Regions from separate parts of the Homo sapiens genome. Here regions 2 and 3 are each linked to region 1. The links come from fine-mapping of genetic effects on gene expression. A gene starts in region 1. Each other region holds a variant in brackets. All regions are shown on one strand. Distances are from middle to middle. Region 1 holds the start of PRKD2 (protein kinase D2). Region 2 overlaps PRKD2 (protein kinase D2). Region 3 overlaps FKRP (fukutin related protein).

Evidence for each region.
Region 2: its variant is fine-mapped to the expression of PRKD2 in prefrontal cortex (GTEx, PIP above 0.99). The same link has a PIP of 0.9 or more in anterior cingulate cortex, cerebral cortex and nucleus accumbens.
Region 3: its variant is fine-mapped to the expression of PRKD2 in unexposed skin (GTEx, PIP above 0.99).

What each region holds. Positions count from the first base shown.
Region 1 is chr19:46,714,809-46,718,950 of GRCh38, forward strand. PRKD2 (protein kinase D2) reads right to left here and starts at 2,306. Exons shown (of 18, transcript NM_016457.5): 1 at 1,323-2,306. The coding sequence starts at 1,562. It overlaps LOC107987269, which reads right to left. Exons shown (of 4, transcript XM_017027568.2): 1 at 3,838-4,142; 2 at 3,545-3,694; 3 at 2,991-3,168; 4 at 1,726-2,369. The coding sequence ends at 2,003. RefSeq lists enhancers at 1-40, 3,552-3,601 and silencers at 2,202-2,251, 2,272-2,431.
Region 2 is chr19:46,682,557-46,686,698 of GRCh38, forward strand. The region is part of intron 14 of PRKD2 (protein kinase D2); the gene reads right to left. Among named protein-coding and RNA genes, the nearest start is that of DACT3, 23 kb to the left of the region's middle. The variant G/A (reference allele first, on the strand shown) is at 2,490.
Region 3 is chr19:46,751,605-46,755,737 of GRCh38, forward strand. FKRP (fukutin related protein) reads left to right here. Exons shown (of 4, transcript NM_024301.5): 4 at 3,808-4,133. The coding sequence starts at 3,847. Among named protein-coding and RNA genes, the nearest start is that of STRN4, 7.2 kb to the left of the region's middle. The variant T/G (reference allele first, on the strand shown) is at 2,341.

The sequences.
Region 1 (4,142 bases):
GCTGAGTTGGGGTGGTGAGCTGGGCCTGCGGGATTGAGGCATTTGGTGGGCAAAACCCTATCAGTTCTCACTGCTAAGAGAGAGTCCACAGAAGACCAGGACTGCCTTGGCCCTGACCCCTTGGGAAGTTTTTCTCTAAGCTTCAGTTTCCTTGTCTGTAGAATGGGGGAGCTGGCCCAGTTCCCCACGTTTCTCTGATGCCCAAAGGATTCATTTCCAGGAGTCTGAAAAGATTCTGGAATTTGGATATTTTGGGACTCCAACATGCTCACATTATAGAATTATACATTCTAGATTCCTACCTGGTATCACTATACATTTTAGGATTTCAATAACCTAAATAAGCGGTAATCTAATATTTTAATATTCTAGGAGTCTGACAAGCTAGGACTGTGCTCTTTGAATTCTTTAGCATTCAAGGACCTCATCCATCCAGCATTCTAAAATTCTAACATTTTAACTTTCTAGGATTCAACAATCTAGGAATCTAATATTCCAGCATTTTAATGTTTTACTATTTCACAAACCTAGAATTCTAATATTTGAACACGAACATGGGGGCAATTTAATTGCCTAGGATGCATATTCCAACAAGTTATGATTCTAATATTCTAACATTTCTACAGTCCAGTACTCCAACACAGAAGCCCACTATTCTTTTAACATTTCACGGTTTAGACGTGGAGTTCCACCTGGTTTCCTCTTGCCATAACACCCAGCTGCCCACCCTGGGGACCCTGGTGTCCAAAATTAAGAGTAGGCTAACAGCACTGTGACTAGGAAAGGGAATAGAGTCCCCAGGGTCTGTAGGAGTGCCTGCCCCTCCACACATATCTCAGGCTTAGGGGAGGGCAGAATTGGGCTCCGAGACCTCACTTGCCCCTGGCAGCTAACTCAAGCACCTGCACCCACACATGTCACCGGATCACCATGGCCAGCCCGGGTTCAATTTCTCCTGTTTCCACCAAATGGGAGGCCCGGGATGGGCCTGGACGTGGAGGTCCGCCGACATCTGCTGCCCCTTCCTCCCCTCTCTACACCTGGCTGGCCCCTCCCTTCCTCCCTGTTTGCTGCAGAAAACAACGACATGCAGGGACATGAAATTTGGGGAGGCCTCTGGGGCACCCCACCCCTGCCCAGTCCTCTCTCAAAGGGATGGTGGGGAGAGGGGCAATGGAGGGGGGCAATGCCCCCTATCCCTCCATCACCCAAAGCTCAGGTCTCCTTCCTCCCTCTTCCGCACACCAGGCCCCAGACCCCTCTGCCAGCGCCCCCTCCTTCAACCTCTCCCCGAGCTGGATCCAGGGAGCCTGCGCCCTCACCTTCTGGTCCACGATGGAACAGGCCAGCTGCTTCACATGAGCCAGCTCGGAGGCGGCGGGCAACAGCACGAACTCGCGGGTCAGCCCGATCTGGATGTGAAAGGAGACCCCGGAACCCGGGGCCGGGATCTGGGGCAGTAGCGGTGGCGGCGACTGCAGCTCTAGGCCGCCGGGGGGCGGAGGAGACCCCGGCCCGGGAGAGCCAGGGAGCCCGGCGGGATAAGAGGGGGCGGTGGCCATGGGGGGAGGCCGGGGACCGGCCGCCTGGAGCCCACCCGGGACCCGGCCGGGGGGCCCCGGGGGACCCTGGGTTCTAGATCCGCGGGATCTCGTGAGCAGGTGGTGGGAGAGCGGGGATCCGAGAAAAGATCTGGCAGGCGGAGGGGACCTGAGGATGGCGGGGTCCTGGGAAGGAGAGAAAGGCACTATAGTGGGTCAGAGGCCCGGAATCCAGGGCTCCCAGAAGATCAGAAAGGAGAAAAGTAGTGGGTTGGAGGTCCCAGCGATTGAGATTCCAAGAAGCCTGAGAGGAAATCTAGTAGGTCGGGGTCACAGGGATCAGGAGAGCCCGCGATTCAAAGGCCCCTTCCCTAGAGGAGGGATTGAGAAGGGGGCAGAGGGAATCCCAGGATCCAGTGCTCCAAGAAGAGGATCCCACTCAGAAGGCGGCCCGGGGGAATTCACCTTGGGGGTGGAGGGCAGGAGTCTCTGAGTCGGGGACCGAGTGGATTCCAGAGATAAAGGGGTTCGCAGGGACCCGACCGGCCAGGGGATGGGCAGAGGGGTCCCGAGGGCCGGAGTGGGTAGAAGGGAATCTCACGAGTCGCAGAAGTTGGAGAAAAGTTCGGTCGGGAGCCGTGAGGAAGGGGGCGTTGCCGGAGCGGGGTTGGGTGGGGGGCAGGGAGGGTCGCCAGGCGCCAGTAGCTCTTTTTCCCCCTCCAAAGTTTAAGTCGGCGGCGGCGGCGGCGGCCCAGGAGGAAGTGTCCGGAGCGACAGTGCAGTCGACCAATCGGCGCGGGCCTCGGCGACGTCAGAGAGGGGCGGAGCCTGCCGAGGGGCCGGGGGCGGAAGGGGAGGGTGGGCCCGGGGCCTCCGAGTTGGGGGCTGGACCTCCGCCTCCAGGGTCCGGGACAAGGGATGGTGTGAGGGATGGAGGGCAGGCAGGCGAGACCAGTTCCTTCCCTGAACACAGCCAAGCCTGGAAAGTTAACTTTTCCCTCGGCTGGACAGGGAGGGGAAACACTATCACCCACCGCCGGTCGCAGGCGTCGGGCTTGGAGGCCACTGGCCCTTTAAGGAGGGGAGCCCTCTCCGGCAGGCGTCCGGCGCCCATGGCAGGGGACGGGTGGGAAATCGGTATCAGGTCCCGGCCCGCTCTCTGGGTTCGGCCTCTCTGTTCTCCGAGCGTCACCCCTGCCCTCCCCGCCGCGTCCCAGCCCAGGGAAGGGGGTGCTGCAGAGCGTCCCCCGGCCCCAGCCCATTTAACACATGGAAAGACCGAGGCCTCCAGATGGGTAGGAAGGGGCTCGCCTTAGGTCTGTCTCCAGCGATGGTGGGCAAGGTGCATGGCGCTAACTGGATGGGTGGGGAGGGTCCATCCCCCCGCCCACCCCAACCCCGCCTTAGGATAGTGTGGGGCTGCCCCGAGGGAGGACAGCACACCCATACCACTTCATAGATGCAGAGTGTGTCTCCTGGGGATGTGGAGTACGTGTGCGTGTCTTTCTCTCCATGTGACTTTGGGTGAGTGGCTTCTCTGTGAGCCTCAGTCCCTCCATCTGTTGGGACTGTAATAGGACTGACCCCACATGGGATGGTGGGAGCCGATGCCATGGTATACTGGTGCCTGGAAACGCAGCAGTTCAGTAAGAGGTGGTTGTCTCTGATAATACGCGGAAAGGGGTGGCCACCTCCAGCACTCAGGCTTTGATGGGTGGGCACACCCATTCAGTCACCCAGCAAGTATCTGTGAGGACCTACTGGGTGCTGGGTGGGCCCTGCTGTAAAACTCCAGCCGCTACAGGGGTCAGGCTTGATCTCTCCTCCCCAGCTAATAATCAAATAGTGGCTACCATTTAGTTTACACAGAATAAGCTGAAGCCTCAGAGAAGCAAAACGTCTTGCCCAAGATCCCAGAGTGAAGTTGCTTGAGGGAAGCTGCCCCACCCACCCCTTTGATTGACAAGTCAAGGCCTAGGTTTGAGCTCTAAGAGAAGGGCCACCTGTCTGGCTGGGATGCTGGCAGGACTGGAAATGGCAGGGCTGGCTGAGGATGGGGGCTGCCAGAAGAGCCCCTCTTCCTGGTGTACGGCCGTTGGGGGTAGCTGAGGTCGGTACAGTATCGATTCTGTCACCACATCCGGGGGCTGGGGCTGAGGAAGGAAGTCTGAGGCTGGAGTGAAAACCCAAACCACCACCTGGGGAACTGCATTGAGCCCAGAGGGATGGGCAGGGAGCACACCACGTGGAGCCCACGAAGGCTCCCCTTGGCGTCATCTAAGGGCCTCCTGCCCACCTGCACCCTTTTTCCTGAAGGGCAGATGACTGTCCCAGCAAAACGCTGCCATGTCCTGAGTGTCCAGACAGCGGCCTCCATCCTTTCTCGTATGTTCACTGGGGCCTGCTGGGGGACTGGGGCACAGCCCTTTACAACCCAGGAACTGGGCATTAGTGCCCTGTGGCAGAGGTGCTAGGATTACCGAGGACGCCTGGCTGGTAGGTGGTGGAAGCCTCCTCGAGACAGGAGCAGCGGTCCCCTCCGTCTCATCTGGAGCATGTGGACACCTGCTCCCTCTTTTTAAGGCTGTGGACCCAGTGAAA
Region 2 (4,142 bases), 32 kb before region 1:
TCTGAGAGATAAGAGTTAAATGTAAACTAGAAAGTCTGGGCTAGATGAGTGGGGCTGTGAAGATCCCAAGATCTTCTAGCATGTGGTAAACTCCTGAATGCTACTGACAGAGCAGGCATTTCCAAGATCCAACTATGTGATTCTATTTTTTTTTTTTTTTTTTTTTTGAGACAGAGTCTTGCTCTGTCACTCAGGCCAGAGCACAGAGGCGGGATCACAGCTCACTGCACCTCGACCTCCCAGGCTAAATCCATCCTCCCACCTCAACCTCCCTAGTAACTGGGATTATAGGCACACACCATCACACCTGACTAATTTTTGTATTTGTAGAGACAGTGTCTCACCATGTTGCCCAGGCTGGTCTCAAACTCCTGCACTCAAGTGATCCACCCACCTCAGCCTCCCAAAGTGCTTGGATAACAGGCGTGAGCCACCCCACCTCACCCATTTTTTTTTTGAAGAGATGGAGTCTCCCTCTGTCACCCAGGCTGAAGTGCAGTATCATTCTACAGCCTCAAACTCCTGGGGTTAAGTGATCCTCCAGCCTCAGTCTCCCAAATAGCTAGGACTACAGGCATGTGCCACCACCACCATGTCGGGCTTTGATTCCTTTTTTTTTTTTTTTTTTGAGAAGGCCTCCTGATTCTCCTGCCTCAGCCTCCTGAGCAGCTGGGATTACAGGCACACACCACCATGCCCGGCTAATTTTTGTATTTTTAGTAGAGACGGGGTTTCATCATGTTGGTCAGGCTGGTCTTGAACTCCTGACCTCGTGATCCACCAACCTTGGCCTCCCAAAGTGCTGGGATTATAGGCGTGAGCCACTGTGCCCAGCCTGATTTCATTTTTAAAAAAAATATTTTTCATCCTTACAAAAAACTTTGGCTGGGCATGGTGACTCATGCCTGTAATCTCAGCACTTTGGAAGGCTGAGGCAGGTGGATCACCTGAGGTCAGGAGTTAGACACCATCCTGGCCAACATAGCAAAACCCTGCCTCTATTAAAAATACAAAAATTAGGCGTGGTGGTGGGCGCCTGTAGTCCCAGCTACTCGGGAGGCTGAGGCAGGAAAATCGCTTGAACTGGAGAGGTGGAGGTTGCAGTGAGTCGACATCGCGCCATTGCACTCCAGCCTGGGCGACAGAGTGAGATGCCATCTCAGAAAAAAAAAGAGTACCAACCTTACAGGTTGCTATAAGGTTTAAAGCATATCTAAAGATGCATGTAAAACGCTTAGGATAGCTAACCACTGTATGTTAGCTGTTACTGTTGTTGTTATTAGTTATTATTTTTGTGATGGCTTGTTGGTAAATATATTTGTTTGTGTCTCTTAAATAAAGCTTCTCCTGCTGTATCTGTTCCTATGATAAGGTGAGCTGATTAAAAAAAAAATTACCATTTGTAACCATTCATCTGTGAGAATCATATTTCTTGATTCTCTGTAACTCAAAATGCCAAGTACACCAGAAGCAATTGTACAACTGCAATTATTATCTGTCTCGGAGTTTAAATACTTGTGTATCTGTCTCAGAGTTTAAATACTTGTGTTTATTCTGATTGTTTTCTTTTTTAAAAAAATCTTTTTGTAGAGATGGCATCTCGCTATGTTGCCCAGGCTGGTCTTAAACTCCTGGCCTCAAATGATCTTCCCACCTCAGCTACCCAAACCTTGAGATAATAGGCACGACCCACCATGCCTGACCAACCTCCTCATTCTACAGACTGGGAGACCAAGCTGGAAAGATGCATGTGTTGTATATGTCATCTCCAGATTGTTTTTTTGAGATGGAGTCTCACTCTGTTGCCCACGCTGGAGTGCAACGGCATGACCTCGACTCACCACAAATTCCACCTCCCAGGTTCAAGCAATTCTTGTGCCTCAGCCTCCCCAGTAGCTGGGATTACAGGTGAATGCCACCACACCTGGCTAATTTTTGTATTATTAGTAAAGATGGGATTTCACCATGTTGGCCAGGCTGGTCTCAAAACTCCTGACCTCAGGTGATCCATCTGCCTTGGCCTCCCAAAGTTCTAGGATGACAGGCGTGAGCCACCTCGCCCCGCCCATTTCCAGATTTTGTCAGTTGATTTTCTCCCAGTTCATGTGAACAAAGAGGGCAGGTTAGGCCGGGCACGGTGGCTTACGCCTGTAATCCCAGCACTTTGGGAGGCTGAGGCGGGCAGATCACGAGATCAAAAGTTCAAGACCAGCCTGATCGACATGGTGAAACCCCATCTCTACTAAAAATACAAAAATCAGCCAGGAATGGTGGCGTGTGCCTGTGTTCCCAGCTACTCAGGAGGCTGAGGCAGGAGAATCATTTGAACCTGGGAGGCAGAGGTTGCAGTGAGCTGAGATAGCGCCACTGCACTCCAGCCTGGGCAACAGAGCGAGACTCCATCTCAAAAAAAAAAAACATTGGCCGGATATGGTGGCTCACGCCTGTAATCCCAGCATTTTGGGAGGCTGAGGCGGGTGGATCACGAG[G/A]TCAGAAGTTCAAGACTAGCCTGGCCAACATAGTGAAACCCCGTCTCTACTAAAAATACAAAAATTAGCCCGGTGTACTGGGACGCACCTGTAGTCCCAGCTACTCAGGAGGCTGAGGTGGGACAATTGTTTGAACCTGGGAGGCAGAGGTTGCAGTGAGCTGAGACTGTACTATTGCACTCCAGCCTGGGTGACAGAGTGAGACTTCGTCTCAAAAAAAAAAAAAAAAAAAGAAAAGAAAGAGGGCAGGTTGGAAGCTAGATAGATCCAGACTCAAATCTTGGCTGGAAAGCTACTTGGCTGTGACCTCGAGGGAGACTGCTATCTCCCTGAGCCTCAGTTTCCTCATCTATAAAATGGGGTTTATAACAATACCTACCTCCTAGGATGGTGGTGAGGCCTACATAAGCTCAGGAGGTAAAGGGCTTAGCACAGGGCTTAGGTGTGGGGCAGGCAAGAGCCCAGAAAGCAGAAATCTGCAGAGAGAGAGAGAGAGAGAAAGAAGAGCGAGCAGGCAAAAAGAGAGGAAGAGATGAAGGCCAGAAAGAGAAACCCCCTCAGCTGCTGAAAGCAGCCACCTGTGAGAACCATGATTCCTTTCCACACCTGAAGTCTGGATGTGGCCGGGCACGATGGCTCATGCCTGTAATCCCAGCACTTCAGGAGGCTGAGGCAGGCAGATGACTTGAGGTCAGGAGTTTGAGACTGGCCTGGGCAACATGATGAAACCCCATCTCTACTAAAATTACAAAAATTAGCCAGGCATGGTGGCACACACCTATAATCCCAGCTACTCGGGAGGCTGAGGTAGGAGAATCACCTGAACCCAGGGGGCAGAGGGTGCAGTGAGCCGAGATCGTGTCACTGCGCTCCAGCCTGGGCAACAAAGCGAGACTCTGTCTCAAAAATACATAAATAATAAAGTCTGGATGAGGGTGCATCAGTGGGTTTCTGTCCCCACCCCATAAGCCAGCCTGACAAACACAGGCACACTGCCTGAGAGGATAAGGGTGCTGGGCCAGGGTAAAGGGAACACAGCAACGATGGCTCTGAGACCCACAGAGATGTCTCAGAAGAAGGCAAGGCACCCACCAGAAGGAAGCCTTTCTAGGAAGGATGTGAAACACAGAAACCACACAAGGGGATATTTAACATCGTAAAAGTTCCACTCTATGGCCGGCTGGACGCAGTGGCTCATGCCTGTAACCCAGAACTTTGGGAGGCTGCAGCAAGAGGACCACTTAAGCCCAGGAGTTCGAGACCCAACATGGCAAGACCCTGTCTCTACAAAAACATAAAAAAAAATTAGCCAGGTGTAATGGCTCATGCCTGTGGTTCCAGCTAACTCAGGAGACTGAGATGGGAGGATCGCTCGAGCCCAGGAGTTCAAGACCAGCCTGGGCAACATGGCGAGACCTTGTCTCTACAAAAACATTAAAAAAAAAAAAAAAAAAAATTAGCTGGACGTGGTGGCTCATGCCTGTGGTTCCAGTTAACTCAGGAGGCTGAGATAGGAGAATTGCTTCAGCCTAGGAGTTTGAGGCTGCAGTGAACTATGATTACACCACTGCACTCCAGCCTGGGTGACAAAATGAGACCCTGTCTCAAAAAAAAAAATAAAATAGGCCAGGCGCGGTGGCTCACACCTGTAAT
Region 3 (4,133 bases), 37 kb after region 1:
CCGGACTGCGGACTGCAGTGGCACAATCTCGGCTCACTGCAAGCTCCGCTTCCCGGGTTCACGCCATTCTCCTGCCTCAGCCTCCCGAGTAGCTGGGACTACAGGCGCCCGCCACCGCGCCTGGCTAATTTTTTGTATTTTTAGTAGAGATGGGGTTTCACCATGTTGGCCAGGCTGGTCTTGAACTCCTGACCTCAGGCGATCTGCCCACCTCGCCCTCCCAAAGTGCTGGGATTACAGGCATGAGCCACCATGCCCAGCCCACCAAGATGCATTTTTAAATAGGATGGCCAAAGGAAGAGGTTATGGGAAGGTGACATTGGAGTGATGGGGGTGGGGGCCGGCGCAGTGGGGTGGATCGCCTGTGGCTATCTGGGATAAGAACACTCAGACAGAGGCAACAGGCAGTTCTGCAGCTGGAGTGTCCCAGGTGTGTTTGAAAGATGGTGTTGGTGGCCAATGTTCCTAGAGCTGAGTGAGTGAGTAGGAAAGGATGGAAGATCACGCGGGGCCTTATGGGCCACATTGAGTACCTTGGCTTTTCCTGCGAGGTGCCAGCCACAGAAGGGCCTGAGCAGAGCCAGGACAGGATGAAATGTGAGTTGTGACAGGATCTCTCGAGGTGCTGAATGAGGAACAGACCACAGGAACAGAAGCGGGAAGACAGTCTCTTGCTGTGACCTTCAAGGATATGCAGACTAACCATCTCATGTGTGTTCGGAGCTCCTATGTACCTAAACTCTAAGATTTTGAAGGGCTTGAGGTTCTGTGGTTGCAAAGGTTCCTGCCCCTGCACTAATGGGAGCTCCACAAGGGCAGGAATGTTGTCTGTCTCTGAGCATCTGTTGCTCTCTCTCCAGTGCCTAGAACAGTGCCTGGCATGTTGTAGGAGTTCAACAAATAGATGTTGAAGGATTGAAGGAAGGAAGAATCAATCTAAGGTCCAGAAGGCAATTCCAGGATTCTAAAGATTAGAAAGGACATGGTGACTCACGCCTGTAATCCTGGCACTTTGGGAGGCCGAGACGGAAGGATCACTTGAGGTCAGGAGTTCGAGACCAGCCTGGACAATATAGTGGGAGCCAGTCTCCACAAAAATGTGTTTGAAAAATTAGCCAGGCACAGTATTGCATGCCTGTAGTCCCAGCTACTCGGGAGACTGAGGCAGGAGGATGGCTTGAACACAGGAATTCGAGGCTGCAGTGAGCCGTGATTGCACCACTGCACTCAAGCTTGGGCAGCAGAGCAAGACGCTGTCCGTTTAAAAAATATATATATTTTGGCTGGGTGTGGTGGCTCACTCCTGTAATCCCAACATTTCTGGAGGCCAAGGCAGGCAGATCATGAGGTCAAGGGATTGAGACCATCCTGCCCAACATGGTGAAAACCCGTCTCTACTAAAAATACAAAAATTAGCCGGGCATGGTGGCACGCGCCTGTAGTCCCAGCTACTCAGGAGGCTGAGGCAAGAGAATCGCTTGAACCCTGGAGGCGGTGGTTGCAGTGAGCCAGTCGCACCACCGCACTCCAGCCTGGCAACAGAGTGAGACTCCGTCTCAAAAAAAAAAAAATTGTTTTTGGCTGGGCGCGGTGGCTCACGCCTGTAATCCCAGCACTTTGGGAGGCCACGGCGGGTGGATCACCTGAGGTCAGGAGTTCGAGACCAGCCTGACCAACATCCCGTCTCTACTAAAAATACAAAATTAGCCGGGTGTGGTGGCGCATGCCTGTAATCCCAGCTACTCAGGAGGCTGAGGCAGGAGAATCGCTTGAACGCGGGAGGCAGAGGTTGCAGTGAGATGAGATAGCTGCCACTGCACTCCAGCCTGGGCAACAGAGGGAGACTCCATCTCAAAAAAAAAAAAGAAAAGAAAAGAAATAAGAGCAGTTTGAGAAAATGTTCAGGGTGACTTAAACATACAGGTTGGGGAAAGCATGGCAAGAGATGAGGGTGGAATGGGGGGCAGACAAGGGGAATGTCAGAAGCAGCTTCCACTTTCTCCCCTGGGCACTGGGAGCCATGGCAAGTTCAGAGCAGGGGAAGGAGAGGTCCAACTTGTGCTTTAGGAAGACTCCTCTGGCTATCACGGGGAGAGGAATTGCCAGGAGACCAGGGGGAGGTTGGATGGGAATGTGGGTGGACCTGGTTGAGGAGGGAGCTGTGGAAATGGGGAGGAGGGGACAGAGGATTTAGGACATAGGGAGGTTAGTTGGATGCCCCCTCTCTCTAGGAAGGGCAGAAACCTACAAAAAGCCTTCATGGGGAAATTATTTGATCATCTGCTTGGAACCCAGAGCTATACCACCTGTGCTGGAGACCGGCCAGCCAAATCTTCAGTC[T/G]CGGTGGGGACAAGGAGACAGCGCCATCTGGTGCTTGAGGGTGTGGCCAATGAATGTGGAGGGGAGTGTCCTAAGGTTGGCAGCCTCTTTTGATGCAAGCTACCCCAGTTTTTTGTTGTTGTTGGGTATTTTGAGACAGGGTCTCACTCTTGTCCAGGCTGAGTGCAGTGGCATGATCATGGCTCACTGGCTCAAGCCATCCCCCCACCTCAGCATCCTGAGTGGCTGGGACCATAGGTGAGTAGCACCACACCCAGCTAATTTTTTATTTTTTGTAGAGATGAAGTCTCCTTATGTTACTCAGGTTGGTCTCGAACTCCTGGACTCAAGTGATCCTCCTGCCTTGGCCTCCCAAATTGCTGGGATCACAGGTGTGAGTCACTGTACCTGGCCCACCCCACTTTTGTTTTTTCTTTTTTTTTTTTAATTTTTATTTATTTATTTATTTATTTATTTATTTATTTTTTGAGACAGTCTCACTCTGTTGCCCAGGCTGGAGTGCAACGGTGCCATCTCGGCTCACTGTAACCTCCACCTCCCAGGTTCAAGTGATCCTCTTGCCTTGGCCTCCCAAATTGCTGAGATCACAGGCGTGAGTCACCATACCTGGCCCACCCCACTTTTGTTTTGTTTTTCTTGTTTTAAATTGGTTTGTTTATTTATTTATTTATTTATTTTTCGAGACGGAGTCTCGCTGTGTTGCCCAGGCTGGAGTGCAATGGTGCCATCTCCGCTCACTGCAACCTCCATCTCTCAGGTTCAAGCGATTTCCTGCCTCAGCCTCCTGAGTAGCTGGGCTTACAGGCACCCGCCCTCACACCCAGCTAACTTTTGTATTTTTAGTAGAGATGGGGTTTCACCGTGTTGGCCAGGCTGGTCTCAAACTCCTGACCTCAGGTAATCCACCTGCCTTGTCCTCTCAAAGTGATGGGATTACAGGCATAAGCCACCGCGCCCAGCCTAACCTTTTTTTTTCATTTATATTTTTCAGCACCCCACTTAAAATTTTTTTTAAATTCTGATTAAGTATATATAACATTAAATGTACCATCTTAACCATTTTTCAGCACACAGTTCAGTAGTGTTAAATGCATTCATACTGTTGTGCCAACAAACCTCTGGGACCTTTTCATCTTCCCAAACTGAAACTCTGTACTTATCAAACAACTCCCCATTCCCCCCTGCCTGCAACCCCTGGCACCCGTCATTCTACTTTATGTTTCTATTAGTTTGACTCACTCTGTTTAAAAAAAAAAAAAAAAATTCTGAGGACACCCAGAGTTGGTGCATGGCCCAGACTGGGAGGTCAGGGAGTGCTTCCTGGAGAAGGGGAAGTCAAAGCTGAAACCAAATAGGGAAAAGAAAGGGAATTGAGAAAGAGCTGTAGAAAGGGGCAAGGCTGAGGGTGGCAGAAGGGGGTGGTTCTGACAATCAGCTGCTGCCTTCCCTTTCGTCCCCCTCCCCCAGGATGCCCCGGAGGCCCAGCTAGCCCCAGACTTCGGCCCCATGCGGCTCACCCGCTGCCAGGCTGCCCTGGCGGCCGCCATCACCCTCAACCTTCTGGTCCTCTTCTATGTCTCGTGGCTGCAGCACCAGCCTAGGAATTCCCGGGCCCGGGGGCCCCGTCGTGCCTCTGCTGCCGGCCCCCGTGTCACCGTCCTGGTGCGGGAGTTCGAGGCATTTGACAACGCGGTGCCCGAGCTGGTAGACTCCTTCCTGCAGCAAGACCCAGCCCAGCCCGTGGTGGTGGCAGCCGACACGCTCCCCTACCCGCCCCTGGCCCTGCCCCGCAT